Linked DNA regions of Homo sapiens. The protein of the gene in region 3 purifies or fractionates together with the protein of the main gene of each other region. This does not show direct contact. Each region holds a gene or a part of one and is shown on either strand. Other genes may lie near its edges. The genes, in order: CHST7, YEATS2, TMEM74, SPECC1, ZMYM1, MIS18BP1 and RRP12.

Region 1 (4,283 bases), on a different chromosome or scaffold from region 3:
TATTTTTTTTTTTTTTTTGGAGACAGAGTCTGGCTCTATCACCCAGGCTGGAGTGCAATGGTGCAATCTCAGCTCACTTCAACCTTTGCCTCCAGGGTTCAAGTGATTCTTCTGCCTCAGCCTCCCGCGTAGCTGGGACTACAGGTGCCCGCCACCATGCCCAGCTAATTTTTGTATTTTTAGTAGAGATGGGGTTTCACTATGTTGGTCAGGCTGATCTCGAACTCCTGACCTCAAGTGATCCGCCCGCCTCAGCTTCCCAAAGTGCTGAGATTACAGGCATGGGCCACTACGCCTGGCCCAGAAATCCTTTTAATTTGACTTCCTCTTCTTATTGGTAAGAACACTAAAGCTGAAAAGGTTTAGGGACTTGCCAAAGGTCAATTAAGTAGTAACCAGGAGAGGCAGGCCCTGATGCCTGGGTTCCCATGCCGTAATTCAAAAACTGACTTCATATAGAAAGCAAGGAATGACTGTTACTACTTTATGTCCACCCCTTGCTTTGTAGGACCAGCCTCCTTCCCTGTTCACTCATCAGACTTGACAAGTCTTGACTTTTCCTTAACACCGTATCCATCAGCTGAGGGGTCCTGCCAGGGAAGGCAGGCCCAAATGGGAGCTCCGAGTGCCTTGATCAAAGGTAGCATTAACCTCACAAGGAGCAATAATGATTTGGACATGGATGTATTTTTAAAAATTGTTCACACCTCATTGCAGCCCTGCTACTCAGGTACCTATCCATGTGCACACACACATGCGCACACACACACCATCCTAACTTCCAGCTCTCTGGCTCAAACCTAGCACCCAGGTTGATATGCTATTAGGAGTCTGAAGATAATTTTGTTGAATGAGAAATTCTATATAGGAGCAATGTTTCAAAAATGTCCATTCTGGGCTGGGCACGGTAGCTCACGCCTGTAATCCCAGCGCTTTGGGAGGCCGAGGCGGGTGGATCACGAGGTCAAGAGATCAAGACCATCCTGGCCAACATGGTGAAACCCCGTCTTTACTAAAAATACAAAAAAATTAGCTGGGCATGGTGGCACACACCTGTAGTCCCAGCTACTGGGGAGGCTGAGGCAGGAGAATTGCTTGAACCTGGGAGGCAGAGGTTGCAGTGAGCCGAGATCGCACCACTGCACTCCAGCTTGGCAACAGAGCAAGACTCCATCTCAAAAAAAAAAAAAAAAAATGCCCATTCTTTAGCAGTCTGTGTGTAAGCAACAGCTTCACTTTTCAGTGATATTTATTTATCTTTTGAGACAGGGTCTCTCTCTATCATCCAGACTAGAGCGCAGTGGCGTGATCACAGCTCATTGCAGCCTCGACTTCTTGGGCTCAAGCGATCCTCCTACCTCACCCTCTCAAGTAGCTGGGACTACAGATGCGCGCCACTACCCTCAGCTAGTTTAAAAAAAAATTGTAAAGATGGTGGGGGTTGTCTCACTATGTTGCCTAAGCTGGTCTTGAACTCCTGACCTCAAGCGATCTTCCTGCCTCAGCCTCCCAAAGTGCTGGGATTATAGGTGTGAGCTACTGCACCCGGCCTCAGTGATATTTATACATAAGCCTATATAAAATGTTTGTGGCCCAGTTTCCTGATTAAAATAGATTTTCAAAATGATTTGGTGGTGGTTGATCATTTCTTTTCCTGTTTACATGATTTCTTTAGAAAGAAAGCTTCCTGATTGTTAGGGTTCAAATTACAGGGTGTTTGCCTTCTTTCCTAATTTCTTTCAAAGGATGCATATGTCATGTCAAGAGCAAAGATCAAGGTGCCTTAAATGCCTAGCGGGATGAAACTTTGGGACCTACCAAGGGCAGACATTAAAGGGAGACATGCTGAAAAGGACAGGATAGCACATCAGTCTGTCCAGAACAGTGGTGGATAGTGTACAATGATGGATTATTAGATAATTAGATAATGAGCTACAGACAACAAAGCATGTGAAGGCATGTGAGAGGGTGATAAATGGACCCATGTATAATTGAGGACATTTTCCCCTTTCCATAATAACACTCTACATCTGCTTGGCACTTCATAGCTCCAAGTTCTTTCACATAAATTACTGTGGCAAGCAGTTCAGTGCTCATCAACAGCCCTTTATTCCCCATCCTGATCTTGTTCCGGTGGCAGCCTTCTGGTCCCATCTGGCCCAGGGGATGAACCATGACTGGTCTGAGCCAGAGGTTCTCAGCTTTGGCTATACAGTAGGATCATCTGGGGAGCTTTTCAAACATCCCAGTGCCTGAGTCTGGGGACTCCACTCCAGACTACTTAAATCAGAATCTCTGGGGGTGGAGCTCAGGCATTGGCATTAAAAAAATAAATAAAAAAGCTCCTCATGTAAATGTAATGTTCAGCCAGGGCTGAGAACCGCTGGTCTAAGCCAATCACAATGCTCCCATTCCCTTTCACCAATGATTGGGCTAGGGCAGGCTGTATAACCCAGTTTTAGCTAATGAGACATAAAGGGACGTCGGCTGGTAAAGGGGGTTCTGGGAAAGGTGTTATAATTTATTAAGGCTGGGTGCAGTGATTCACATCCATAATCCCAGCACTTTGAGAGGCCGAGGCAGGCAGATAGCTTGAGCTCAGGAGTACGAGACTAACCTGGGCAACACAGTGAGAGCCCCCACTCCCCGCCCATCCCCAATCTTTGCAAAAAAAAAATTTCTTTTAATGAGATTGAGTGGTGGTGTGCACCTGTAGTCCCAGCTACTTGGGAGGCTGAGGTGGGAGGATTGCTTAACCCTGGGAAGTTGAGGCTGCAGTGAGCCATGACATTGCACTCCAGCCTGGGTGAAAGATTGGATGTGGTGGTACGCACCTGTGGGCCCAGATGCTTGGGAGGCTGAGGTGGGAGGATCACTTGAGCCTGGGAGGAGGAAATTGCAGTGAGCCAAGATTACACCACTGTACTCCAGCCTGGGTGACAGAGTAAGAGCTGCCACTCAAAAAAAAAAAAAAAAAAAAAAAAGAGCATGGCAGGAGGAAAAACCCCTCCACCCCTTACTGGCTAGATAGCTTCCTTCCTTTCTGTATTTTAATAACCCTGTGTCGTTGTGTGAAGATGTTTTGCTTGGAGCTGTGGCTACCATCTTGTTACAGTGGGAAGATAAGCCAGTGAATGAAAGCCAAGATGTAAAAGATAGAAAGGGCCTAGGTCCTTGGTGACTTGGTTCAGGGTGCTACGGCCCCTACCCAGACCAGAAAAAACTTCACTGACTCCCTCACTGCCAAATCCTGGCCATTGGGTATGGACCATCCAGAAGTTACTCAGGTTAATTCACATGTGGCCTCTCTCCTCAGTTGAGCTGAGGGCACCCTGAGATGCCCTGTGGGGAGGATGGCTGTAAAGTTGTCGGCTTTCCTGTGTAGGCACTGTCGGCAGCTCAGGGATATTTTATTTGTTCAGTGGTTGGGACATATTAGTAATAAAGCTGAGTGTGTTTTCCACCTCATACTAGCCTAGCTGGAGTATCAGGGTGCTGCCAGGGAATGCCAAGGCAGGGGCCAGGTGAGGTATAAAAGAGAGGATTATGAGCTCTGGAGTCTAACACCAAACACTGTTCCACCCTCACCAGCCCAGGTATGACTTTGGGCAAATTACTTCTCTGAGTCTCGGATTCCTCATCTGGAAAACTGGTATAAATAATGATATATGTACAATGCCTAACTCAGTGCATGACACATAGCCCTTCAGTAAGGATCCCTCCCCCTCTCTTCTCCTCCCTTCTCTAGAATAGAGTGTGACAAACTTTTGGAAAACCCATCAGTGAGTCGGCAGTAACGTTATCTTCCTAGGAACCAAGAATACAAGCACTGTAATCAACCCACTGATTGGTGGTAAGTGCCCAATGCGGGAGGAAGGACTCAGTCACTAAAGTCTGGAAGAGCCTAAAGCTTGCTCCCAGATGTCCCTGCAGCCCTGCAAAGGAAGCCCCATCGGCCTTCCAAACAGCAACACCAGTGTCTTCCCTCACAGTCACTGTCACCCACACAGACTCTAACCTCCTAGAGGGCAAAGACTGTCCTCTACCCTCCTCTCTATTCTCTTTAATGCTTCACCCCAGCCAGTACTCAAATAGATGTTAGTAAAAATGAAAAAAAAAAAAAAAAAAAAGCAAAAGTTTCTGGGAGATTGTCATGTCTTAAAGCCATAAAATGCACAGCATTCCGCCCAGGGGAGGAGTTCCCTCAGGCCTGTGAAGAAGGGTTAGGGACAATTACTGTTATATCTGTAAATACAGGATCAGCAGATGAAAGGATGTTTTTG
Region 2 (4,283 bases), on a different chromosome or scaffold from region 3:
TTAGTTTTCAAAATAGAATTCAGGAAATGGATCATATGTATTTGGATTACTGAAAGTCAGTTTCATTAAAATGTTCCTAAAGGGGCCAGGCGTAGTGGCTCACGCTTGTAATCCCAGCACTTTGGGAGGCTGAGGCAGGCGGATCACCTGAGGTCAGGAGTTCAACCCTCCCTCTACTAAAAAAATAAAATAAAATAAAATAAAAAATAGCCAGATGTGGTGGTGGGTGCCTGCAGTCCCAGCTACTTAGGAGGCTGAGGCAGGAGAATCACTCCAACCTGGGAGGCAGAGGTTGCAGTGAGCCGATATTGCGCCACTGCAATCCAGCTTGGGCAACAGAGTGAGACTCCATCTCAAAAAAAAAAAAAAAGCTTCCTAAAGCTTCAACAGTAGACTTGTGTAGTACAAATCCCCTTCGTTCTAGATCTCCCCACTTTGGTTTTAGGATTTAGCCTTTGTTCGTTCTGCTTGTTTCTTTTTCTGTTGCTGGCAATAAAACTTTCCAGTTATGATGCATTATGCTTTTAATACCCTGCTGGATTGGATTTGTATGTGTATTTGCAGTGAAAGCTTGTTTGCCATTTTCCTCTGATGGTGACTTTTGACCACATTTCCATAGGTTTGGAGATACTGTGTTCTCGTTAGTTTTTAAATAGTCTGTTACTTTAGTTTTAATTTCTTCTTTGAGTCATGAGTTATTAGAAGAGTGTCTTATTTTCCATATCATGGTGAGCTAATATTAATTTTTATTAAGATCAGAATGTGGCTGTAATATTTCTACATTTTGCAGTAATTTGAGACTTTCTTCATATCTTACTGTATGATTTACATTTTATGAACTTTTTTTTTTTTGAGACAGAGTCTCACTCTGTTGCCCAGGCTGGAGTGCAGTGGCGTGATTTCGGCTCACTGCAACCTCCACTTCCTGGGTTCAGCAGTTCTCCTGCCTCAGCCTCCCAAGTAGCTGGGATTACAGGTATCCACAACTATGCCCAGCTAATTTTTGTATTTTTAGTAGAGACGGGGTTTTACCACATTGGCCAGGCTAGTTTCAAACTCCTGTCCTCAAGTGATCCACCCACCTTGGACTCCCAAAATGCTGGGATTACAGGCATGAGCCACTGCATCCGACCTTAATGAACTTTTATAGATATTTTTAAAAGATTTTTTTCTGTTGGGTTCAGAGTTGTGTGTATTTGTTAATTCTGGCTTGTTAATTACCAGATATATATCTATATCATCTTTTTTGTTTGTTGTGTTTGTTTTGTTTGAGACGGGGTCTGGCTCTGTCACCCAGGCTGGAGGTGCAACGGCGCGATCTCAGCTTAACTGCAGGCTCCATCTCCTGGGCTCAAGCAATCCTCCTACCTCAGCTGCCCAAGTAGCTGGGAGTACAGGTGCTTGCCACTACTCCTAACTAATTTTTGTATTGTTTGTAGAGACAGGGTTTCACTGTGTTGCCCAGGGTGGTCTTGAACTCCTGAGCTCAAGCGAGTCACCTGCCTCAACTTCCCAAACTGCTGGGATTACAAGCGTGAGCCACCACGCCCGGCCTATCATCTGTATTTTTATAAATTGTCTTAATCTTTTAAATTTTATATAGAGATGTGTGATTTCTTAAACTTTCCTTTTTCTGTTTGTTGTATGTATTTTGATACTATATTGTTGGATGTATAGTTTAAGATGTATTTTTGTGATTGTGCCTTTAATAACATCATCTTTATCATGTTATTTTTTTTGCCTTGAATTCTATTATTAATATTGCCTTGCTTACTGTCTTTTTGTTTGCATGTGTCTGTGTATAATAACTTTGTACATTCTTTTAAACATTTAGCTAAAGAGCCTTTAAAGATGTAGCAATATCAACAAATAGATTAATGATGAAAACTAATGTAAGGTAGTAGTTATGTTCCCTGTGGTCATTTATATTTTGGCAGATATTTTAGTTAATCCTTCATTTATGGCTGGGCGCAGTGGCTCACGCCTCTAATCCCAGCACTTTGGGAGGCCGGGGCAGGCAGATCACGAGTTGAGGAGATCGAGACCATCCTGGCTAACATGGTGGAACTCCATCTTTAGTAAAAATGCAAAAAAATTAGCCAGGCATGGTGGCGGGCGCCTGTAGTCCCAGCTACTCGGGAGGCTGAGGCAGGAGAATGGCCTGACCCGGGAGGCGGAGCTTGTAGTGAGCCAAGATCGCACCACTGCACTCCATCCTGGGTGACAGAGCAAGACTGTTTCAAAAAAAAAAAAAAAATCCTTCATTTATTTTTCCAGATAGTAATATTGAGCACTTCCAGGAACTTTGGAGGGAGAAGGTAGGGAGAGCTGTGTTGGATGGGGCACGGTCAAGGAAGGCCCCTGATAAGGGGGAGATTTCAGCTGGAATCTGATTAAGCTAACCTAAGAAAAGAGCATTCCAGATAGAAGGAGCCATGATTCCAAAAGCTCAAAGGAAAATTGGGAGTATATTTGAGGGATAGAAAACCAACCTGTCTGGATCTTAAAGATTAAGGATGGAGAGGGAGACAGGGCGCAGTTCACATCTCTTAGGTCATGTTAAGGAATGGAAATTTGTTCTAAATGTTATGAAAAGCTATTTGAAGGATTCAAGCAGGGGATGACATGATCAGAAAAATATTCTTATTGTCCTTTTCTAAAGTGAGGTATAGTTTACAGACAGTGAAATACAGATTTTGCGTGTACAGTTGGGTGTTTTTGCAATTGGATATACATACCCATCTAACCTACACTCTTATTAAGATTAGTGGAGCACTGTGGGAGGCCAAGACGGGCAGATCACCTGAGATCGGGAGTTCGAGACCAGCATGACCAACATGGAGAAACCCCGTCTCTACTAAAAATACAAAATTAGCCCGGCGCGGTGGCGCATACTTGTAATCCCAGCTACCCAGGAGGCTGAGGCAGGAGAATCGCTTGAACCCGGGAGGCGGAGGTTGCCGCGAGCTGAGATTGTGCCATTGCACTCCAGCCTGGACAACAAGAGCGAAACTCTGTCTCAAAAAAAAAAAAGTTAGGTGGAGCATTGGTAATCCAAAAATCTGAATCTTAAATGCTCCAAAATCTGAAACTTCTTAAGCACCAACATGATGCCACAGTGGAAAATTTCACACCTGACCTTGTGACTGGTCAGTTAAAACATAGTCAAAACTTTGTGTTATGTTTTGAATTATTTAAAATGTTGTATAAAATTACCTTCAGGCTCTGTGTGTAAGATATTTATGAAGCGTAAATGAATTTCATGTTTAGATTTGGGTTCCTTCCCAAAGATATCTTACTATGTATATGCAAATATTCCAAAATCCAAAACAGTATGAAATCTGAAACAGTTCTGGTCCCAGGCATCTTGGGTAAGGAATACTCAACCTGAATAAAATATTTCTAAGAAAAAAGTCTTCATTCCTCTTCCCAGTCAGTCCCTAACACCAGCACCTCCAACTATGATTCTCATTTCTTTCACTATAGATTAATTTGTCTCTTCTAGAACTTAAGTGGGATAATTTAGCTTGTACTCTTGTGTTTGCCTTCTTTGGCTTGCCATAATGATTTTGAGGTTCATTTCTGTTGTTGCCTGCATCAAGAGTTCATTGAGTATACCACGATTTGTTCGTCCATTCCTCTGGTTTGGACTTTTGAGACATTTTTGAAATGTCATTGGCTAATGGAAAATGGATTGTAGAGTCTTATTCAGATATTTAATAAAGGAACACTGGTTGTCTTGTTTACAAAAGAGAATGTATTTTCTTTTAAGACTGTAGAAAGGACAGGGCCAGGAACTATGAAATCATTATCAGCATCTTAGGAATGCCTGTCTGTATGGAAGCAGATAGAAAATGATTGTACTACTCCCCTTCCCCACCTATTTTTTTTTTTTTTTTTTTTTTTGAGACGAAGTCTCACTCTGTCACCCAGGCTGGAGTGCAGTGGCGCAATCTCGGATCACTGCAACCTCTGCCTCCCGGGTTCAAGCAATTCTCCTGCCCTGAGTAGCTGGGATAACAGTGCATGCCACCATGCCCAGCTAATTTTTTGTATTTTTGGTAGAGACGGGGTTTCACCGTGTTGATGAGGCCGGTCTCGAACTCCTGACCTCGTGATCCACCCGCCTTGGCCTCCCAAAGTGCTGAGATTATAGGCGTGAGCAGCCAGCATGCCCGGCGTCCCCCTCCCCAACTTTAAACCAGATGGGAAGTCTTGAGTGAGAGCCCCAAGTTCAGTGGTTCTGATATTCAAATGATGTGAGGCACATAGAATTATTGAGA
Region 3 (3,843 bases):
TTCCGGAAGCTGCTGGGGGATGTCTGACTAGCTCTCATGGAGCTCCACTACCTTGCTAAGAAGAGCAACCAGGCAGACCTCTGTGATGCCAGGGACTGGAGTTCAAGAGGGCTGCCTGGTGACCAGGCAGATACAGCAGCCACAAGAGCTGCTCTCTGCTGTCAGAAACAGTGTGCATCCACCCCAAGAGCAACCGAGATGGAAGGGTCTAAACTTAGTTCTTCTCCAGCATCCCCCTCCTCCTCTCTGCAAAACAGTACTCTTCAGCCAGATGCCTTTCCACCAGGACTTCTCCACTCAGGGAACAACCAAATAACAGCGGAACGGAAAGTCTGTAACTGCTGCAGCCAGGAATTAGAAACTTCTTTTACCTATGTGGACAAAAACATCAACTTGGAGCAGCGGAACCGGAGCTCGCCATCAGCAAAAGGGCATAATCACCCTGGGGAGCTTGGCTGGGAAAATCCAAATGAGTGGTCCCAAGAGGCTGCCATATCTTTGATATCTGAAGAGGAGGATGATACAAGTTCAGAAGCCACGTCTTCAGGGAAGTCTATAGACTATGGTTTCATCAGCGCCATCTTGTTCTTGGTCACTGGGATCCTGCTCGTGATCATCTCTTACATCGTCCCACGGGAAGTGACTGTGGACCCCAACACTGTGGCAGCCCGGGAGATGGAGCGCCTGGAGAAGGAGAGTGCGAGGCTGGGGGCTCACCTGGACCGCTGTGTGATTGCGGGGCTCTGCCTCCTCACGCTGGGGGGCGTCATCCTGTCCTGCTTGTTAATGATGTCCATGTGGAAGGGGGAGCTCTATCGTCGAAACAGATTTGCCTCTTCCAAAGAGTCTGCAAAACTCTATGGTTCTTTCAACTTCAGGATGAAAACCAGCACGAATGAAAACACTCTGGAACTGTCCTTGGTAGAGGAAGATGCGCTTGCTGTACAGAGTTAATTCTGGTTGTGAATATCTTGAGAGTCTGCCTTGGCATTTTATAATATGAAAAAAGTTAATTTATAAAAATTCACAGTGCAATTTATTTGCCTGGCAAGAAAAGTTTATTTCACAAACCAACAGCCAGTAAGTGTTTTTGTTCTCTATGTGTCTTCTATTTAGAAGAAAAGCCATGTAAGATGTATAAGAAACCACAACCAGCCACACCTATCCTTCTGAAGAGCTGAAGGCTAATTAATCTGTAATGGCCAAGAACTTCTACTTCGATAGAAAAATATTTCTAATGACCCAGTCTACAAATTATTTCTTTTACACAAATATATGATGTTATTCTTTGGACACTAGGTGGTCCTACACACAGTAGGATCAATTGCTAATCTACTTTGTGAAAAAGAACTAAGCACTAATCAATAATAAGGCTTACATCTAATTCTCAAAGGTGCTTATCCATTTTCTTGCTAAATTATCCTTCTTGTAATTTGGCTAAACACTAAAACATGGAATTTTTAGTTTGAATATTTTGAAGTTTGAGGATGTTGGGCTTTCCTTATTGTAAAAAATGTTATGTTTGAAATTATTCCTGTTTTCAAAAATGGTAATTAAGTCATTAGGATAAACTTTCTAATAAAAAAAAATTATGTAAATCATTGTAAGACCAATGTGAATTTAAACCACAGTGTTGGTGCCAGATATTAGCCAGGGTCACAGGCTCTTTTTTAAAATGAAGTCAAATTAGTTACTGATATAAGTTTTATATTTTGTGATTTTGCCATCATACTGGTTATCTGTGCTCTTGAAGTCTGCTGGTTCTCACACCAGCAGCAAGAGGCAAGGCATGAGACATTTTAAATATATTTCCAGACATCTAAACATCTAGACAGGCCTGAGTCATGATTGGCTCTGGTGTGCTTCCAGGTAACATCTTGTTATTGCTGTTTGGGGAAAACCACCAATAGAATTGCAGCTAGACTTTTGGGGACTGTGCCTCGCAGGCTGTATCACTTGCTGTAGGCCAAGCAACGAGCACTTCCCTCATGGTAGCAACAGTCCTTAAGCCCAAAGCCAAAAAAAAATAAAATGGAAAGAGAGATTCAATACACTGATTTAATGGGGACTGTAGTCATCGTCAGAACTCACCTCCCACTCACAGTGGTCTAGATGTCATTCAGCAACTGTGAACTCTTGCCTCATGCAGCACAAACTCTTCTCTAAGAGCAGCATGATGAGCAAGGTGCTCACTTTGCAAGACACACACTGGGTGTTCACAGTGACAGACCGCCTCATTATGGTGACGGTTCAGAAAAGGGATGGGAAATGCAGCCTCAGAAATACCTTACATTTTGCAACTCTGCCTGGAGGTTTTTCCAACCTGTGCTCTAAGAGTTGTTGTAACTTCCATGATTGTGTTACCAGGATCAGGGGGTCATTCTTAAAAAGAGGACAGGAGCTGGGAATTGGTATGAGACAGCAGGAATGAGGAAGTAAGAAAGTGATTTCTTTGCAGATTTTTAAAGGCTATTTCAAATGTCTGAAGTTTGTGGTGTTGTGGACAACTGTGGAATACATGGGTGACTTTGGCAAAATGTGTGAATCAGGATATTTATGTGGATGAGCTCTCATGGGTGTCAGATTGATTTGATGAGTGAGGTATGCTGCATATGACTTAAGGGTTGAACTGAAATACAAAAAGGGAGGCTCAGAAGATAGTAAAAAGAGAGGATGGGCATATGAAAGAATTATTAAGTAAAAATGAGAAATTATATGGCCATCAGAGGAAGCTAGATGTAGTTAATTGCCTTATGTTATAGAGCAATACTGATTACTGAAAAGAAAGAATTGAGATGACATAAACATGATTTTTGCTTTCTGTTGCTGTATTTTTGTGCTTTTTGAACAAACTTTGTTTTACTGTGACTCTCATTTCATGATTTTTGTTGAGGCTGCCTTACCAGTGGTATAAGTTTTATATTCTGAAGGTTTCTAAGTCCAGCTCTAGCCTGCTTAAGGATCCACTTTGGATGATGTTGAAACAAGAAGGAAACGATCTGCTGAGTGAGTAGGTCTGAGCTGTGTGTTAAAAAAAGAAGGCATTAAAAAAAAGAAGGCATTAAAGAAAAAACTAATGTTTATTCATAGAAGCTAAATGAGATCAACTGAGTTTTTATTTATTGGTGAAACAGGATTAATTAGCCAAATGGCAGACTAAACTGAATTAATGTGGAATCAATTTTCAGTTTATGAAGGAAGAGGAGTTTGGGAATCAAGTGTTAGGAGGTCTTTTCACTTGATAATAAAGCTTTTCATGTGGAAGCATTTAATGAATCTTGCAGGGCTACCAAATAATATAGATTTGATCTAGAGGTAACATTTTGAAAAATGCCATTTTGGAAAAAAAATATTCAACGGGGGAGAAAAAGACCTAACACATCAAAATACATTTCCTTTCTTTTCCCTAGAATGCTATAATTTCCTTTAAAATTTAAAATCGAAATGTGGTAAGTAAATGCACACTTCAACATTATTTAAATCTGCTAACATATAGAGCACCTCTCTTTTAAGGTTCTACTTATCTGAGGGCAAACCATTACACATTACATGATTTTGAAAATCATCTGAATGACTTCTTTTGGGCTGTGGTGACATTATTCAGATACTTGCCTTAATCGACTTTTCCCTGGGTATTTGGTTTATGTAGCCCTTATCCATCCTGCCTGAATTCAATATGAAGATTACTTGAATTTAAAATGATGGTAACACAGGCAAAGAAAAGCCATGTGCTTTATTTCCTGTTTTTCCCAATCTGACAAAGAGTGTTTTTGGCTCTAGAGGTACTTTGGCAAGACCAGGTGATGCATTCTATAGACATTGGGCATACAATACCTATAGTTT
Region 4 (4,283 bases), on a different chromosome or scaffold from region 3:
GGAACATCAGTCTCCCCAGGTGACACGGAACCTATGATAAGAGCTCTTGAGGAGAAGAACAAGAACTTTCAGAAAGAGCTTTCCGATCTAGAGGAAGAAAACCGGGTCCTGAAGGAGAAACTGATCTATCTTGAGCACTCCCCAAATTCAGAAGGGGCAGCAAGTCACACTGGCGACAGCAGCTGCCCAACATCCATAACTCAAGAGTCAAGCTTCGGAAGCCCAACTGGAAATCAGATGTCCAGTGACATTGATGAGTATAAAAAAAACATACATGGAAATGCATTACGGACATCAGGCTCCTCAAGTAGCGATGTTACCAAAGCTTCTTTGTCGCCAGATGCTTCCGACTTTGAGCACATTACAGCAGAGACACCCTCAAGGCCCCTGTCCTCCACCAGTAACCCCTTTAAGAGTTCAAAGTGTTCTACTGCTGGGAGTTCCCCAAACAGCGTAAGTGAATTGTCCCTGGCTTCCCTCACAGAGAAGATACAAAAGATGGAAGAAAACCACCATAGCACTGCAGAAGAACTACAGGCTACTCTACAAGAATTATCAGACCAGCAACAAATGGTACAGGAATTGACAGCTGAAAATGAGAAGCTGGTGGATGAAAAGACGATTTTAGAGACATCCTTTCATCAGCATCGAGAGAGGGCAGAGCAGCTAAGTCAAGAAAATGAGAAGCTGATGAATCTTTTACAAGAGCGAGTAAAGAATGAAGAGCCCACCACTCAGGAAGGAAAAATTATTGAACTGGAGCAGAAGTGCACAGGTATTCTTGAACAGGGCCGCTTTGAAAGAGAGAAGCTACTCAACATTCAGCAGCAGTTGACCTGTAGCTTGCGGAAGGTTGAGGAAGAAAACCAAGGAGCTTTAGAAATGATTAAACGTCTGAAGGAAGAAAATGAAAAACTGAATGAGTTTCTAGAACTGGAACGGCATAATAATAACATGATGGCCAAAACTTTGGAAGAGTGTAGAGTTACCTTGGAAGGGCTAAAAATGGAGAATGGATCTTTGAAGTCTCATTTGCAGGGTGAGAAGCAGAAAGCCACAGAGGCCAGTGCTGTGGAGCAGACGGCAGAGAGCTGCGAAGTTCAAGAAATGTTGAAAGTAGCCCGAGCAGAGAAAGATCTACTGGAACTGTCTTGCAATGAGCTCAGACAAGAATTACTAAAGGCAAACGGTGAAATTAAACATGTTTCCAGTCTGCTGGCCAAGGTGAGAAGAGACAGCTCTTTACTGGTATTTGCTCATCCTTGTTCACATTTCTGCCCTTAACCTCTAAATTCACAGAGCACAGAGAAGCATTTGCTTAGTCTGTTTCATTCACGAAGCCAGCATTCCAGCTTGAAGGCCTGTTAGATTGCACACAGGTTGGGATTGGGGGATACAAAAAGGAAACACCCAAATTTCTGATTATGGGCGGTTCAAAATGTGGGGATGTAGAGTCAAATCAGAGTATGATGCAGTGATAAAAGAATATCATACAGCCTATGCCCAGGCTCTAGTCTAGTGCAAAGGAGGGGCATCTGGTGTAACGTGGGGGTTGGGCGTAGCACAGAAGGACTTCCTGGAAGAAATAGCAACTGAGCTGAGTTCTGAAGATTGAGTGGGAGTTTGCCAGTCTGTCAGCATGCTTTTAGCTGCCAGTAACAGAAAATGAAATCACTCCCAATTTTCAACTAAAATATTACCACTATTTTGGTGTTTTCTTCCAGATATATGTGTGTGTATGTGTATCATACAAGTTACACAAATTTATAATCATCCTGTACATGTTATTAACTTTTTTTGCATTTGACATTTTAGAAATATTAAAACTTTTCTCAGCATATTCCTATCATTAAATATTCATTTAAACATTATTTTAAAGGCCAGATACTATTTTAATATAAATATTTCATATTTACCCTGTTGTTGAACATACATGTATTGTCAAACATTTGTGGTCTTTCCAGTCTTTCAATATTATAAATACTTTTTTATATCTATCTTACTGTTTATTTAGGAAAAATTCCTAGACGATGACTTACCGAGTCAAAGAGTATAAACATTTTAAAGACTTTCAACACATTCAGCCAGATTGCCCTTCAGAAATATTATGCCAGTTTATTCATCCTAGCGGTCATGAGATCATGAGCTTTCCTGAGCCTTTGCCAGCACTTGGTATTACATTGTTATATCATTTAAATCTGTTAATCATTTCATTTTTTTAACCTTTTTTGCTTGGGAAGATCTTCCATAGCCCAAGAGCAAATAACTTTTCTCAACACTTTAATCAGCCTGTAATTTTGTTTTTGATGCAAGAATTGTGGTGATTTTATGATATTCTGCCCACCTCCCAGAGCAGTGCTGGAGAGGTGCAGAGAGATGGCCTCCTATTTCTTGTTCCCTCCAAGTTCTGGGTCTGATTTAGGGATCTACTGGCAAGAGAGATTCAAAACATCTTCCTACCTTAGTTTAGGGGTTGTCATTGTTTCAAGGAGCAAATTATGCCATGAGCTCTCAGGGAGATTTTTCTCCACTGCTTCGTCTGTCTTAAGATGAGTCTGTTGCAGCCTGATTCTGCAATTTGGCCATCTGATGAGCTTAGTGGTGGGTCATGTTAAGGAGTTTCTCTCTTTGTCTGTATTCTAAATTTGTAGGTATTTTATTGAAAGTACGGAAGTAATTCCATTAGAGGTTACTAGTCAGGCTTGGCATTGGGTTTTAATATCTTGTGGAGTAAGATTATTCTTTTTTTACTTTAAGATTACTCACTACTCTCTGGCAAAATGTTTTATCTCCCATGTGCACCTTCTTGAAGTTCTTTATCAGTCCCTCTGTGTTTTTGGTAGTTTGGCATTACATTAAATGTGCATATCAGTGAGAAATAATTTGACATCTTAAAAATAGCTTATTTTTTTCTGATCATAAAATATTTTTATTACAGACGATTTAAAAAGTACAGAAAAGTATAAAAAAGAAAAGTATTACCTTTAATTTCACCACTTGGAGAAAAACTGCTAACCTTTTGCTGTATGTCCTTTCAGGCCTTTTCTCAGTTTATACATGTTTGAGCATGCATAAAAACTTGCATTGATATGATTATGATATTTTGTCTTCCTATCCAGAAGAGTAGAGTATGTCTGTCCACATTCCATTACAAAGAATCAGTTGGATTAGTTTATCTATTCCACTATTAATCTGTTTCTGATTAACTTGTTTCTACTTTTATCTTTATTAATTTTTTTGTCTTATTTTTTGTACATTTTGGTTTCTTGACTAAAATTCTTTGTTCATTTAACTTTTTTTTATCCTTGGTTGATAATGAAAGCATTTAAAGTTATAGCTTTGGTAAATAGAGGCAATAAAATCTGGAATCTTCTGGAATAAACTAAATGTAATTTAAAGGAAAGTGTGCATTTTCTGTAGAGTGCAAGGCACAACATATATGTTTAAAATCAAACTGTTATTATTCATGTATCCTACATCTTACTGCATGCTAACTAGAAGTATCAAATACTGATAGTAAGAAGGGAAAGGTCCTAGCTAGTATTTTTAGGTGAGAGTTTGAGGTAAAGATGGGGGCATGCTATCACATAGGGTTTCTTGTATATCTATCAAGACCCTAGGTTTGTGATTTTGTGCTGTCTTATGTGCACAGAGACTGATTTGTAATTGCAGTGGACTTGTAACATACTAATCTTCCTACCCTTTTACATTACTGTAGAAAAAGCAAAACATAGACCTCCTAAATGGACTAATACTGATTGTATCTCTACCACAGACTATCAAGTAATCTGCCAACAACCATGAATTTAAATGATAATACTTAAGAGACTCATGTCCAAAGGATAACAGGAGAAGTTTTAGCACAAAACTATGATGAAGGGTCTAACATGCTGGACTGGGTCCTCTTGACTTACCCAGTGAGCAATGATGTGACCTTGGGCAGGCCCCTTTACATTGTGCAATGTCGAATAGAAGCGTGACGGTGGATGGATCCTGGTCTCGTATCTAATTCCAAGGGAAGCATTTAACATTTAATTATGATGTATGTTTTTTGTAGGCATTTGGTACATACCTTTTATTATGTTATGCAAGTATTTGCTAAGAGGTGTTTTGTTTGGTGGTTTATTTTTAGAGACAGGTTCTCGTTTTGTCACTTAGGCTGGAGTGTAGTGGCGATTATAGCTCACTGCAGCCTTGAACTCCTGGGCTCAAGCAATCCTCCCACCTCAGCCTTTCTGGGTAGCTGGGACTGCAGCCAGGCACCACCATGCCTGACTACTTGG
Region 5 (4,283 bases), on a different chromosome or scaffold from region 3:
CCTGTAATCCCAGCACTTTGGGAGGCCGAGGCGGGCGGATCACGAGGTCAGGAGATTGAGACCATCCTGGCTAACACGGTGAAACCCTGTCTCTACTAAAAATACAAAAAATTAGCCAGACGTGGTGGTGGGCACCTGTAGTCCCAGCTGCTCGCGAGGCTGAGATACGAGAATGGCGTGAACCCGCGAGGCGGAGCTTGCAGTGAGCTGAGATTGCGCCACTGCACTCCAGCCTGGGCGACAGAGCGAGACTCCGTCTCAAAAAACAAACAACAACAACAACAACAACAAAAAACAACCCAGAACAAGGCCTATTGAGTGTCAAAAAGAAAGAAAGAAAAAAAAAGGAATATTATTTCCTGCCTTTGGGAGAAGTCTTCTGTGCTTTCCGTTCTGGTCCCAAGGCAGGATACTCTCAAGATGGGGGCCATAGAAAAGATGTGAGTCACAAATGATCTATTTGAATTATGGCTTGTTTTGACTCCCATCTTCAACTGCTTTTTTTTTTTTTTTTTTTTTTTGAGACGGAGTCTCACTCTGTCGCCTAGGCTGGAGTGCAATGGTGCCATCTCGGCTCACTGCAACCTCCACCTCCCGGGTTCAAGAGATTTTCCTGCCTCAGCCTCCCAAGTAGTTGGGATTATAGGCGCCTGCCACCATGCCCAGCTAATTTTGGTATTCTTAGTAGAGGCGGGTTTTCGCCATGTTGGCCAGGCTGGTCTCCAACTCCTGACCTCAGGTGATCGGCCAGCCTCGGCCTCCCAAAGTGCTGGGATTATAGGCATCAGCCACTGCACCCGGCCAACTGCTTGTTTTTAAGGAAGTCTGTATAGGGATAGAGTTGGGTCTCAAAATATGATATGAACAAGCAACATATCTAAGAAGTCCCACCTCATCTCATTTGCTCTTTCTCTGCTCTCAGAAGCACCCACCCAGAGCTTGTCTATCAGAAATAGGGACAAATAATACTAATCTCACTGGATTATTTCCTCCTATGACTGACTCAGAGAAAGCATGTGATATTTTTTGTTTGTTTTTTTAAAGACAGGTTCTTGCTATGTTGCTCAGGCTGGTTCTGAACTCCTGGCTCAACTGAACCTCCCGCCTTGGTCTCCCAAAGTGCTGAGATAACAGGTGTAAGCCACCATGACTGTCCACATGTGACATTCTTGATTCATCTTTGCATTGTTTGGTGTAAGAGTTAAACACGTGGAATTAAAAACAAAAACATGGCTAGGCTCACATCTGTAATCCCAGCACCTTAGGAGACCAAGGCAGGAGGATCAGCTGAGTTCAGGAGTTGTAAGACAAGCTTGGGCAACATAGTAAGAGCTTGTCTCTACAAAAAAATTAAAAATTAGCCAGGTGTGGTGGTGTGTGCCTGTAGTTCCAGCTACTCGGGACGCTGAGGTGGGAGGATCACTTGAGCTAAGGAGGTCAAGGCTACAGTGAGCCATGATTGCCACTGCACTCCAAGCTGGCTGACAAAGACCTCGTCTCAAAAAAATCAAAATAAATAAAAAAAATAAATAGCTGGGCACAGTGGCTTACGCCTGTAATCCCAGTTCCTTGGGAGGCTGAGGCAGGAGAATTGCTTGAACCTGGGAGGCGGAGGTTGCAGTGAGCCAAGATTGTGCCACTGCACTCCAGCCTGGGCAAGACAGCGAGACTCCGTCTCAAAAAAAATAAATAAGGTCAGGTGTGGTGGTTCATGCCTGTAATCCCAGCACTTTGGGAGGCCAAGGCAGGTGGATCACGAGGTCAGGAGATTGAGACCATCCTGGCTAACACAGTGAAACCCCATCTCTACTTAAAATACAAAAAATTAGCCAGGCGTGGTGGTGGCGGGTGCTTGTAGTCCCAGCTACTTGGGAGGCCGAGGCAGGAGAATGGCATGAACCCGCGAGGCAGAACTTGCAGTGAGCCGAGATCGCGCCACCGCACTCCAGCCTGGGTGACAGAGGAAGACTCCATCTCACCAAAAAAAAAAAAAAAAAAAAAAAGAAAGAAATAAAATAAATACATAAAAATAAAAACAAAAATACTTTTGTGTTTGGGTTTTATTGACCAGCAGACTATTGTTATTTTTGCTATACTTATTTCTAGTTTATAAACCGGCTCCAGCCTGCCTGCCTTTTCTTTAAGGTGAGATAATCGATCTGAGATTATTTAGGAAAATCTCCATATAGCATTTATCATGAATTCTTATGCAAGAAGAAACCGTTAAAAGCCTTCTATTTCATCTTCATCAACTTATCGACATTATTCCAAAGGGTACCAAAAACTACTTCCCACATTTTCCTAGAGTGAAACCATTCATAGGCCAGTTAATAGAAGAAACAATAGGTCTTTATTCATACCTGCTTATATGCTGTAATACTCTTTGAACTATTAAAGTAATGAGACTGTCCTTCCATCTGAAGTATGTGGGACAGACTAGAGCTGGTGTAACAGTAAGTGCCACAGTTCTCACAGCAGTTCATGATGAAGTTGTTAGCAGAGTGAAACTTTGAAAGGCAGGCATTACTGCAAAGATTATGTTTCACATTTTGGTATTTTACTTCATACTGAATCTAGGATTTAATAAAAAGATTCAGTAAAAACTCTGATATTTAAGCAGAATCATCAGAATCCCTGTAAAGGTTATAATTGGAACTTACAATAGCAGTCTTCTGGCACATGCTGCACTTGGTCAAAATGCTATTAGTACATATGGTAACAAATGGTTTTCTTTTTTCTTCATATGATGAAAGACAAGATAGGCTGCAAAAAGTTTTGCAAGAGGTAGTGTCTTCCAGCTGGACACTAATCACATCCTTTGGATTTAAAATGTCTCTAAGAATAAATAACAAGGACATCATTAAACAGTTTAAACACAATTATAACTTCTCTTTATAAATGAAATGACCTCTCAAATTAGAGTAAGAACATTAGCCTTGAAATAAGAAAACCTGAATTTGGTACCCAGTTCTGTCACATTTATACTCCCTAAATTTTAATTTTCTCATCTATACATTACAGATTATAAAGCACATCTAATAGTGCAGTTTTGTTTTTTAAGAGATAGGGTCTTGCTGTGTTGCCCAAGCTGGCCTCAAATTCCTGGGCTCAAGAGATTCTCCCACCTCAATCTCCCACATAGCTAGGATTACAGGCACATAATCCCACCATGCCTGACTTTGAAGATGTAGTTTTGGAGACTAGCCAGCCTGTATTATTAGGTGGTGCTAGTGAAAACCGAGGGATGATGAGAGATCACATATTCACATGAGCAACTCTAGAATCTATAGGACAGAGAATCTTAAAATATGGTCTTCAAATCCCTGGGGGAGTCCCCAAGATCAAAACTATTTTCATAGTAAGATGTTATTTGCTTTTTCACCGTGTTGATGTTTGCAACATCACTTTGCAACTGATGTTGCAAAGCTAATGGTAGGACCCTGCAATCCCACTCCTTGGTAAACACCCAAAAAAACTGAAAACAGGTACTCAAACAAGCACATGTACGTGCATATTCATAACAGCACTATTCACAATGGTCAAAAGATGAAAACAGCCCAAATGTTCATCAGTAAGTGAATGAATGAATAAGCACATTGTGTTACATACATACAGTGGAATATTATTCGCCTATTAACAAAAAGAATAAAGTACTGATACATGTTACAACATGGACAAACCTTGAAAATATTATGCTAAGGGAAAGAACCAGACACAAAAAGTCACTGCACTCTAGCCTGAGCAACAGAGTAATAATACCCTGTCACAAAAAGGTCATATATGATTCCATTTACATGAGATATTCAGGATAGATAAAATCTATAGATATAATGCATACTGGTGGTTGACAGGCACTGGGGGGAGAGGGAAATTAGGAGAAACTGCTTAGTGTTTAAGGTGTTTTACTTTGAAGTGATGGAAATGTTTTGGAACAAGATAGAGGGGATGGTCACACAACATTATGAATATACTAAATGCCAATGAAATGGTTAATTTCTTGGTATACAAATTTCACTTCAATGAATTTGGAAAAGAAAAAAGGCAATGGTGGGTAAAACCGTCAGAGCCTTAGCAGAAATCAAGGCAGTGGCACCAAAATGTGCTAATATTCATGTTATTCCCTGCTATACATTCACTGCCAAAAAAAATTCTTTTTAAAGTATCAGTTTCACTTAAGGAAGTACTCAATGAAACAGCAAAATATTTTAAATTATTTAAACTTCATCCTTAAGTACATTTAAAAAATATTCTGTCTTGGCCAAGTGGTAGGGTGAGAAAAAAAA
Region 6 (4,283 bases), on a different chromosome or scaffold from region 3:
CTCTTGATATCAGTGCTATAAAGCCCAACAAGGATGGATTAAAAAATAAAGCAAACTATGAATCACCAGGAAAAATATTTCTAAGAATGAAAGAAAAAGTACTGCGTGACAAGCAAGAACAGCCATCAAGAAACAGTAGTTTGTTGGAACCACAGAAAAGTGGAAATAATGAAACCTTCACTCCTAACAGAGTTGAAAAAAAAAAATTGCAGCATACCTACCTATGTGAAGAAAAGGAAAACAACAAATCATTCCAGTCAGATGACAGTTCACTAAGAGGTTAGTTTTATGTGTTAGCTAAAAAGCTGTAATGTCTTAAGTGTTTAATGTTTCAGACACTGTTTTAGGTGCTCAGAATATAGCAGTGAACAAAATGGACAAAAATCCTTGCCCTTGTGTAGCTCATATTCACATGGTGGGAAGACATAATTAACATATTAAATAAGTAATTTTTATGGCTTAGTAGAAGAGGAAAAGTGGAAAGAGGAAAAAGCAGAATTAGGATGATGGGAAGAGTTGGAGGGGGATGTAATTTTCAGTGCGATGGTCAGAGTAATCTTCAGTAATTTGAATTTGGGAATTTGAGCCCACAAAATTGAATGAGATGACAGATACATGTATCTTGAGGAATGGGGAAGGATGATCTAGGCAGCTGTTATAAACGCCTTGAAATAGCATGCCTGACATGTTGAAGGACTAGCTATGAAGTTAGTGTGTCATGGAGTGAGTAGATAGAGCTCAGAAGGAAGGGATAAATAAGAGTGGGTCAGATAATATAAGGGCCTTGTAGGTAAATGTAAGAGTTTTGGCCTTTACTGTGAGCAGAATAAGCCATCGGAGGGTTTTGAGCATGTGAATGACAAGATCTGACTTATGAGGGTTTTTTTGTTGTTTTTTAGTTAACCACTGTGTACAATGACAATGTTTTTAAAATGTCACTCTGGCTGTTCTGAAATAGAGTTACTGCAGTAAGCCAGATGACAGCCGGTGTTGGCTTGGTTCAGGTGTTAGTAGTGCAGATAGTAAATGTGCAGATGGTAAATGGCTGGACTCTAGGACAGACGGAAGGAGGAATGGAGTGCGGGCTCATTAACTAAGATTTTGTTATGTTAATTTTGATAACCTCTATTAAAAATCTAAGTTTAGGTATTAGGGTGTTGGAAAAAACTAGTTGGAATTTAGAGAAGTGATCAAGGTGAGAAAAGTACATTGGGGAATCATTAGCACCTAAATGGTATTTTAAAAGCAATGAGATTAGATGAGGTCATCAAGGAGTAAGTGTAGAAAGAGAAAACATTCAAGAGCTGGGTCCTGGGGTACTCCAGCATTTGGAAGGTAGAATAAAGAGTAGAAAGGCCGGCCGGGCACGGTGGCTCATGCCCATAATCCCGTCACTTTGAGAGGCCGAGGCAAGTGGATCACCTGAGGTCGGGGGTTCAAGACCAGCCTGACCAATGTGGAGAAACCCCATCTGTACTAAAAATACAAAATTAGCTGGGCTTGATGGCGCATGCTTGTAATCCCAGCTACTCGGGAGGCTAAGGCAGGAGAATTGCTTGAACCCGGGAGGCAGAGGTTGTGGTGAGCTGAGATCACGCCATTGCACTCCAGCCTGGGCAACAAGAGCAAAACTCCATCTCAAAAAAAAAAGAAATAAAAAAGAAAAGAGTAGAAAGGCCACTGAGAAGATTGTGAGGAAGAAGAAAAACCAGGAGAGTGATACTGTGAAAGCCAAGAGAATGAAGTACTTTAAGGTGGGAGTTGACAGCTGTCTAATGCTCCTAATTGGTCAAGTAGGCTGAGATTCTACTGCTCGTTTTAGCAATGTGAAGGTCATTGGTGACTTTGATGGAGGGCAGCTTTGGTGGAATGGTAGCAACGAAAACATTGCGTGAAAGGGTTCAAGAGATAATGTGACAAGAGGAATTGGCAATAGTGAACATAGACAGCTCTTTTTGAGGCTGGCAAAGAAATAATGGCAATTGTAGTTTAAAGTTTTATCATTTTTAATACTTGGTGAAATACAGCATTTTTATATGCTGTTGGGAATAATGGAGTAGGAAGAAAAAAAATTGAAGTTGCTAGTATGATGCCCTTCAGTAGTTGAGAGGAAATATAATCTAATGCATCATTAGCGGTTTGACCAGAACACAGACAGACCAATTGTTAACTGAAAAGAAAGCCGTTTACACAGATGTTGGTGGATTATTATTTTATGACTTCACAAATAATTTGAAATAAGTAAAGTCATCAGCTGAGCAATATGGAAAACAGGTATTGAAGTTTGAGGAGGTAGAGATTTGAATAGTTTGGGAGAGGCCTAAATTTGATTTCCTGGGTAACACAGAAGAGCTGTTTAAGATTTGTGAACATGAATTTAAAATGGAACCAGTAAATATGGCTGTGAGTTTTCCTTTAGCCCTGTTTTGCTGCTAAGATGCTGGTGTAGAATTGGGGGGAGTTGGATTTAACTGGGTTGTAATTTTGCCAAATAGAATGAAGTGACAGAAGGACAAAGGAGGGTGTGTGTGAAGGAGTCATAATGAAATTTAAGCTGATTAATGAGGGCAAAGGATCTGAAGGAGATGAGGGATTGTGAAGTGTATATTTTATTTGGATAGTCACTGGATTTGAGAGAATGATCTGGAAAGATGACACTACAACAATTAAAATTGAGATTTTAATGAGTTTCAGTCACTGATAATGAAAGATATTTTACATGTATTATCTCTTTTAATCCTTTCAACGAACACATGGGTAGATGCCCATTAGTGGTCTATAAATGGGGATTGTAAAGAGTGTAAGTCCGCTTGCTCTATGTCTCATAGGTAGCAAGTAATAAGCTGATAACTGAATATAGGTATCTGTTAGAAAGCCCATGTTCTTAACCACTACACAGTAGGTTGTGGGTATATTGTTGCATTTCCAAGACAGTGACATATTCTAACACAGAGTTTTCTAAGGGAGTTTGGGGGTAGAAGTGGGGAGACTCACAAAGTCATCTATTTCTCATATAGCCTGGGAGAAAAGGAAGAAGCAAATGAAATAATACATATTAAAGTTTTTAAATATAATAAGGTAGCATTTGAGAGTAAGAAATACCTGACCATTTTGAGAATCTGGTGACCCTTTCCCCCAGAAAATATAAACACAAATAGAAACACAAATTTTGTATATACTTTTAGAAACCTTTTAGAGAGTCTACATGAACCTGGGACTCCCACATAAGTGAATAAATATAACTTATTGCATTTGATTGAATTACTACTGAATTGCCTTGCCATTTCTTGTAGAATGAGTTAAAGATATAGAAACTTATTGTTTCTTTTTGTGACACGTTGTTATAATGAAATCTTTATCTTAAGATTTCTGAGACCAAAGTGGCATACTTATTAAAGCATAGTCACTACCAGTTTTTTCAAGTATAAAATTTAAAATTAAACATATAAGATAATTCTTCTCAGGCTCAAATTTTAAGTCTATTATCATCCCCTTTTTGTGTGAAAGAAACTACATTCGAGAAACATTAAACTTTAAAAATCTAGGAGGTAAAGCAGAATAAGATGCAAGCAGTGCTATTAGTCCTTATTTATCTAGTTGAGAAACCTACAACTTCTGAGCATTTGAAGGCCTACTAAAAATTGTCTAAAGGATATAAATTATGGCTGAGTCTGCTGTTGCATCTCAACATTTTAATTTTTAAAGAATAAGTTACAATTCTTCGACTATCTTTCATGCTTTAGAAATTCACAGCAACCAGAAACAGAATCGGAATTTTCAAGACTGGGTGAAACTTTATATTGTAATCTTAACATATACATATCCAATTTGTGGCAGCACCAGAATTTCAGATCTCTAGGTTTCTAAGTCCAATACTTTTGTCTAGAGCTGGCGGGTTGTGTTCAGAGAAGGTTTTAAAAAATTCTTCCTCACCGTAATGTTGGTATAGAGAATGGGGTAAAGGTATGAGAAGATAATACAGCCAAAAATATAAAAATATATGTAACTGTCATATATTGCAAAAGTACTATACTGGTCTGATCATTACTAAATCTAAGTGTCTTTATTTCAAGAATTTTAAAAGCTGTTTTTTTCTTAGTGACTAATACAATTCAACTTCTTCTTTCTTTAAAAAATAAAACCTTAGCCTCAGTCCAAGGAGTTCCTCTAGAATCATCAAATAATGATATTTTCCTCCCGGTCAAACAAAAGATTCAGTGCCAGCAGGAAAAGAAAGCACCACTGCACAATTTAACTTACGGTAAACTATTTTTGGTTTGTTT
Region 7 (4,283 bases), on a different chromosome or scaffold from region 3:
ACCCATATACCCCTACTTAGATGCTAAATTTTCATTGGAAATACTTGATTTGTGTCTATTTAGAGTTCATAACATTTATGGTTGTACAAGTAGATTTGCCTACTATGAATTACTACGAACCTATTTGCCAGGTTGTTACAAATATATGTTTTCTAGTAAATAGATCAAATATTTTAAATTATGAGTAGTTGAAATTTAAAAACTAAATTTTCAGGCTGGACATAGTGGCTTACACCTGTAATCCTAGCACTTTGGGAGGCCGAGGTGGGCAGATCATTTGAGGTCAAGAGTTTGAGACCAGCCTGGCCAACATGGTGAAAACCCATCTCTACTAAAAAATTAGCCTGGCATGGTGGCATGCGCCTGTAATCCCAGCTACTTGGGAAGCTGAGGCACGAGAATCACTTGAACCCTGGAGGCAGAGGTTGCAGCGACCCAAGATCGCACCACTGCGCTTCAGCCTGGGTGACAGAACGAGACTCTGTCTCAAAAAAAAAAAAAAAAAAGGCCGGGCGCGGTGGCTCACGCCTGTAATCCCAGCACTTTGGGAGGCCGAGGCGGGTGGATCATGAGGTCAGGAGATCGAGACCATCCTGGCTAACAAGGTGAAACCCCGTCTCTACTAAAAATACAAAAAATTAGCCGGGCGCGGTGGCGGGCGCCTGTAGTCCCAGCTACTCGGGAGGCTGAGGCAGGAGAATGGCGTGAACCCGGGAAGCGGAGCTTGCAGTGAGCCGAGATTGCGCCACTGCAGTCCGCAGTCCGGCCTGGGCAACAGAGCGAGACTCCATCTCAAAAAAAAAAAAAAAAAAAAAAAAAATACGTATATATATATACATATATATATATATATGTATATATATATACGTATTTTTTTTTACCCAATTTTGTTATTTAGGTTTACCAAAATGTGATTAGTTTCTTTTCTTTTCTTTTCTTTTTTTTCAGACAGAGTCTCACTTTGTCACCCAGGTTAGAGTGCAGTGGCTGATCAGCCTTCCAATTCCCAAGTAGCTGGGACTACAGGGGAGTGCTACCATACCAAGCTAATTTTTGTATTTTTTGTAGAGATGGGGTTTGCCATATTGCCCAGATTGGTCTTGAACTCCTGGGCTCAAGGGATCTGCCCACCTGAGCCTCCCAAAGTGTTGGGATTACTGGTGTGAGCCATTGTGCCCTGCTTGATTAGTTTATTTTTTATCCACTGTTCTGCAACTTTTTCCCTACTGAACGATATTTATAAGTTAATATATAGTTGTTCTCATTCTTTTGAATAATGCACTATTTAAATTTTTCATTATTATATAATGATACAGTCAGGTCTCTATATTTGCGGGTTCTGCACCTGCAGATTCAACCAAGCATGGATTGAAAAATCTTTTTAAAATAATAATAATATACCAGGCGAGGTGGCTCACGCCTGTAATCCTAGCACTTTGGGAGGCCGAGGCGGGCAGATCACTTGAGGTCAGAAGTTCAAAACCAACCTGGCCAGCATGGTGAAACTCCATCCCTACTAAAAGTACAAAAAATTAGCCTAGCGTAGTGGCACATGCCTGTAATCCCAGCTACTCAGGAGGCTGAGGCAGGAGAATCGCTTGAACCCGGGAGGTGGAAGCTGCGGTTAGCAGAGAGTGCGCCACTGCATTCCACCCTGGGTGACAGAGTGAGACTCTGTCTCAAAAACAACAACAACAACAACAACAACAAAAATACAGTATAACAACTATTTATATAGCATTTACATTGTGTTAGGTGTTACCAGTAATCTAGAGATGATTTAAAGTATATGGGAGGCCAGGCATGGTGGCTTATGCCTGTAATCTCAGCACTTTGGGAGGCTAAGGAGGGCAGATCACTTGAGGCCAGGAGTTCAAAACCAGCTTGGTCAACATGGTAAAACCCCATCTCTACTAAAAATACAGAAATTAGCTGGGCATGGTGGTGCACACCTGTAATCCCAGCTACTTGGGAGGCTGAGGCAGGAGAATTGCTTGAACCCAGAGGCAGAGGTTGCAGTGAGCTGAGATCATGCCACTGCACTCTTGCCTAGCTAACAGTGAGACTCTATCTCAAAAAAAATAAATAAAGTATATGGGAAGATGTATATAGGTTATACACAAATACTACACCATTTTTTATAAGGGACCTGAGCATCCTCGGATTTTGGTATCTTTAGGGGTCCTGGAACCAATCCCCCCCTCGATAACTGCAGTACATTAGAGACAACTACAGTACATTATTAATCTCCTGTTGATGGCTTCTTGACCATTCCAATTTGTTGCTGCCATGAACATCCTTGTACATAAATATTTGCACACTCATCTCATGCAGGTATTTCTAGAAGGTTAGTACCTCATGGTGGAATTTTAGCAAGCATTTTCTGAGTCTTGTTATTTGCTGGGCCCCCTGGTATGGACCTAGGCCCTGAATGTTGCCTGTCTTGTCTGTCTCTGGGCTTTAACCAGAGATTAATCTGTGAAGGAGCAAGGAAAGGAGGTTCCCCTGGGGTGGGGTTAGGTCTAAAATAGTCACAGTGCTTTCTCCCTCCTGTGCAGATCTGTGCTGTTCTGGCTGCTGTCACTGAGGTGATTCGCTCCCAGGGAGGGAAGGAGACGGAGACTGAGTACTTCGCTGCTCTGGTGAGTGGGTGCCACTGGAGGGTGGGTGTTCAGAGCAGCAGGTTATGCAAGATTTAGCGAGAAGATGAGTGCCCCTGGCATGTGGGGGTAGAGAAGGACAACCTTGACCAGGTGAAAGTGCTTCAGTTATTCTCAGGTGGCTTAGGAAGGCTGGTGGTATTTGCTACCTTTTAATTTTCTCTTTTCTTTTCTTTCTTTCTTTGTTTCTTTTTTTTAAAGAGACAGGGTCTCACTATGTTGTCCAGGCTGGTTTCAAATTCCTGGGCTCAAACCGTCTTGTCATCTTGCGGTGGCCTCCCAAATTGTTGGGATTACAGGCATGAGCCACTGCAACTGGCTACTTATTACTTTTTTTTTTTTTTTTTTTGAGGCGGAGTCTCACACTGTCGCCCAGGCTGGAGTGCAATGGCATGTTCTCAACTTATTGCAACCTCTGCCTCCTGGGTTCATGTGATTCTCCTGCCTCAGCCTCCCGAGTAGCTGGGATTACAGGTGCACACCACCATACCCGGCTTATTTTTTGTATTTTTTAGTAGAGAAGAGGTTTTACTATGTTGGCCAGACTTGTCTCGAACTCCTGACCTCGTGATCTGCCTGCCTCAGCCTCCCAAAGTGCTGGGATTATAGGCCTGAGCCACCAGGCCTGGTCTACTTTTTTTTTTTTTTGAAACAGAGTCTCACTCCGTTGCCCAAGTTGGACTGCAGTGGCACGATCCCAGTTCACTGCAACCTCTGTCTCATGGTATCAAGCAATTCTCATGCCTCAGCCTCCTGAGTACCTGGGATTACAGGCGTGCGCCACCACACCTGGCTGATTTTTGTATTTTTAGTAGAGACAGGGTTTCACCATGTTGGCCCGGCTGGTCTCGAACTCGCAACCTCAGGTGATCCCCCCTACCTCAGCCTCCCAAAGTGCTGGAATTACAGGTGTGAGCCACCATGGCTGGCCTACTTATTACATTAAATAAATAAATATATTTGTGTATGTATGTATGTGTGTGTGTGTGTGTATATGTGTATATATATACTTTTTATTTTGTTTTTGGGTTTTTTTGTTGTTGTTTGTTTTGTTTTGGAGACAGGGTCTCACTTTGTTGCCCAGGCTGGAGTGCAGTGGTGTGATCATGGCTCACTGCAACCTCCACCTCCTGTGTTCAAGTGATGATCGTGCCTTAGCCTCCTGAGTAGTTGGAATTACAGGCGCCTGCCACCATGCCCAGCTAATTTTTGTATTTTTAGTAGAGACAGAGTTTCGTCATGTCGCCCAAGCTTGTCTTGAGCTCCTGAGCTGAATCAGTTCTCCCACTTTGGCCTCCCAAAGTGCTGGGATTACAGGCATGAGCCACCATGCCCAGCCTGGTTATTACATTTTTAAAGAATTGTTAAAACACACACAAAAAGAACATACAACAGAGACCAAGTGTGCATGCAAAGCCGAAAATATTTACTATCTGGTCCTTCGTAGAAAAAGTTTGCCAACCTCTGCTCTAGAATAATGAAATAAATTAGATGGCAGTATATGGTGTTTGGCTGGGTGTGGTGGCTCACGCCTTTAATCCTAGGACTTTGGGAGGCCAAGATCGGAGGAGTGCTTGAGGCTAGGAGTTCGACACCAGCCTGTGCAATATAGTGGGACCCTGT

What was found.
Region 1: the proteins of TMEM74 (region 3) and CHST7 purify together in Homo sapiens (affinity purification with mass spectrometry; one large-scale study listed by BioGRID and IntAct). This does not show direct contact.
Region 2: the proteins of TMEM74 (region 3) and YEATS2 purify together in Homo sapiens (co-immunoprecipitation; one large-scale study listed by IntAct). This does not show direct contact.
Region 4: the proteins of TMEM74 (region 3) and SPECC1 purify together in Homo sapiens (co-immunoprecipitation; 2 studies listed by BioGRID and IntAct, with this or other methods). This does not show direct contact.
Region 5: the proteins of TMEM74 (region 3) and ZMYM1 purify together in Homo sapiens (affinity purification with mass spectrometry; one large-scale study listed by BioGRID and IntAct). This does not show direct contact.
Region 6: the proteins of TMEM74 (region 3) and MIS18BP1 purify together in Homo sapiens (co-immunoprecipitation; 2 studies listed by BioGRID and IntAct, with this or other methods). This does not show direct contact.
Region 7: the proteins of TMEM74 (region 3) and RRP12 purify together in Homo sapiens (affinity purification with mass spectrometry; one large-scale study listed by BioGRID and IntAct). This does not show direct contact.

What each region holds. Positions count from the first base shown.
Region 1 is NC_000023.11:46,576,971-46,581,253, reverse strand, and holds part of CHST7 (carbohydrate sulfotransferase 7), read right to left. Parts: intron 1-4,283.
Region 2 is NC_000003.12:183,703,796-183,708,078, forward strand, and holds part of YEATS2 (YEATS domain-containing protein 2), read left to right. Parts: intron 1-4,283. UniProt on the Homo sapiens protein: Chromatin reader component of the ATAC complex, a complex with histone acetyltransferase activity on histones H3 and H4. YEATS2 specifically recognizes and binds histone H3 crotonylated at 'Lys-27' (H3K27cr).
Region 3 is NC_000008.11:108,781,292-108,785,134, reverse strand, and holds part of TMEM74 (transmembrane protein 74), read left to right. Parts: 5' UTR 1-36; coding exon 37-954; 3' UTR 955-3,843. UniProt on the Homo sapiens protein: Plays an essential role in autophagy. TMEM74-induced autophagy may involve PI3K signal transduction.
Region 4 is NC_000017.11:20,204,689-20,208,971, forward strand, and holds part of SPECC1 (cytospin-B), read left to right. Parts: coding exon 1-1,224; coding exon of another isoform or gene 1,225-1,248; intron 1,249-4,283.
Region 5 is NC_000001.11:35,102,847-35,107,129, reverse strand, and holds part of ZMYM1 (zinc finger MYM-type protein 1), read right to left. Parts: intron 2,836-4,283; coding exon 2,661-2,835; intron 2,574-2,660; coding exon 2,361-2,573; intron 1-2,360.
Region 6 is NC_000014.9:45,242,739-45,247,021, reverse strand, and holds part of MIS18BP1 (mis18-binding protein 1), read left to right. Parts: coding exon 1-279; intron 280-4,147; coding exon 4,148-4,261; intron 4,262-4,283. UniProt on the Homo sapiens protein: Required for recruitment of CENPA to centromeres and normal chromosome segregation during mitosis.
Region 7 is NC_000010.11:97,394,577-97,398,859, reverse strand, and holds part of RRP12 (RRP12-like protein), read left to right. Parts: intron 1-2,558; coding exon 2,559-2,642; intron 2,643-4,283.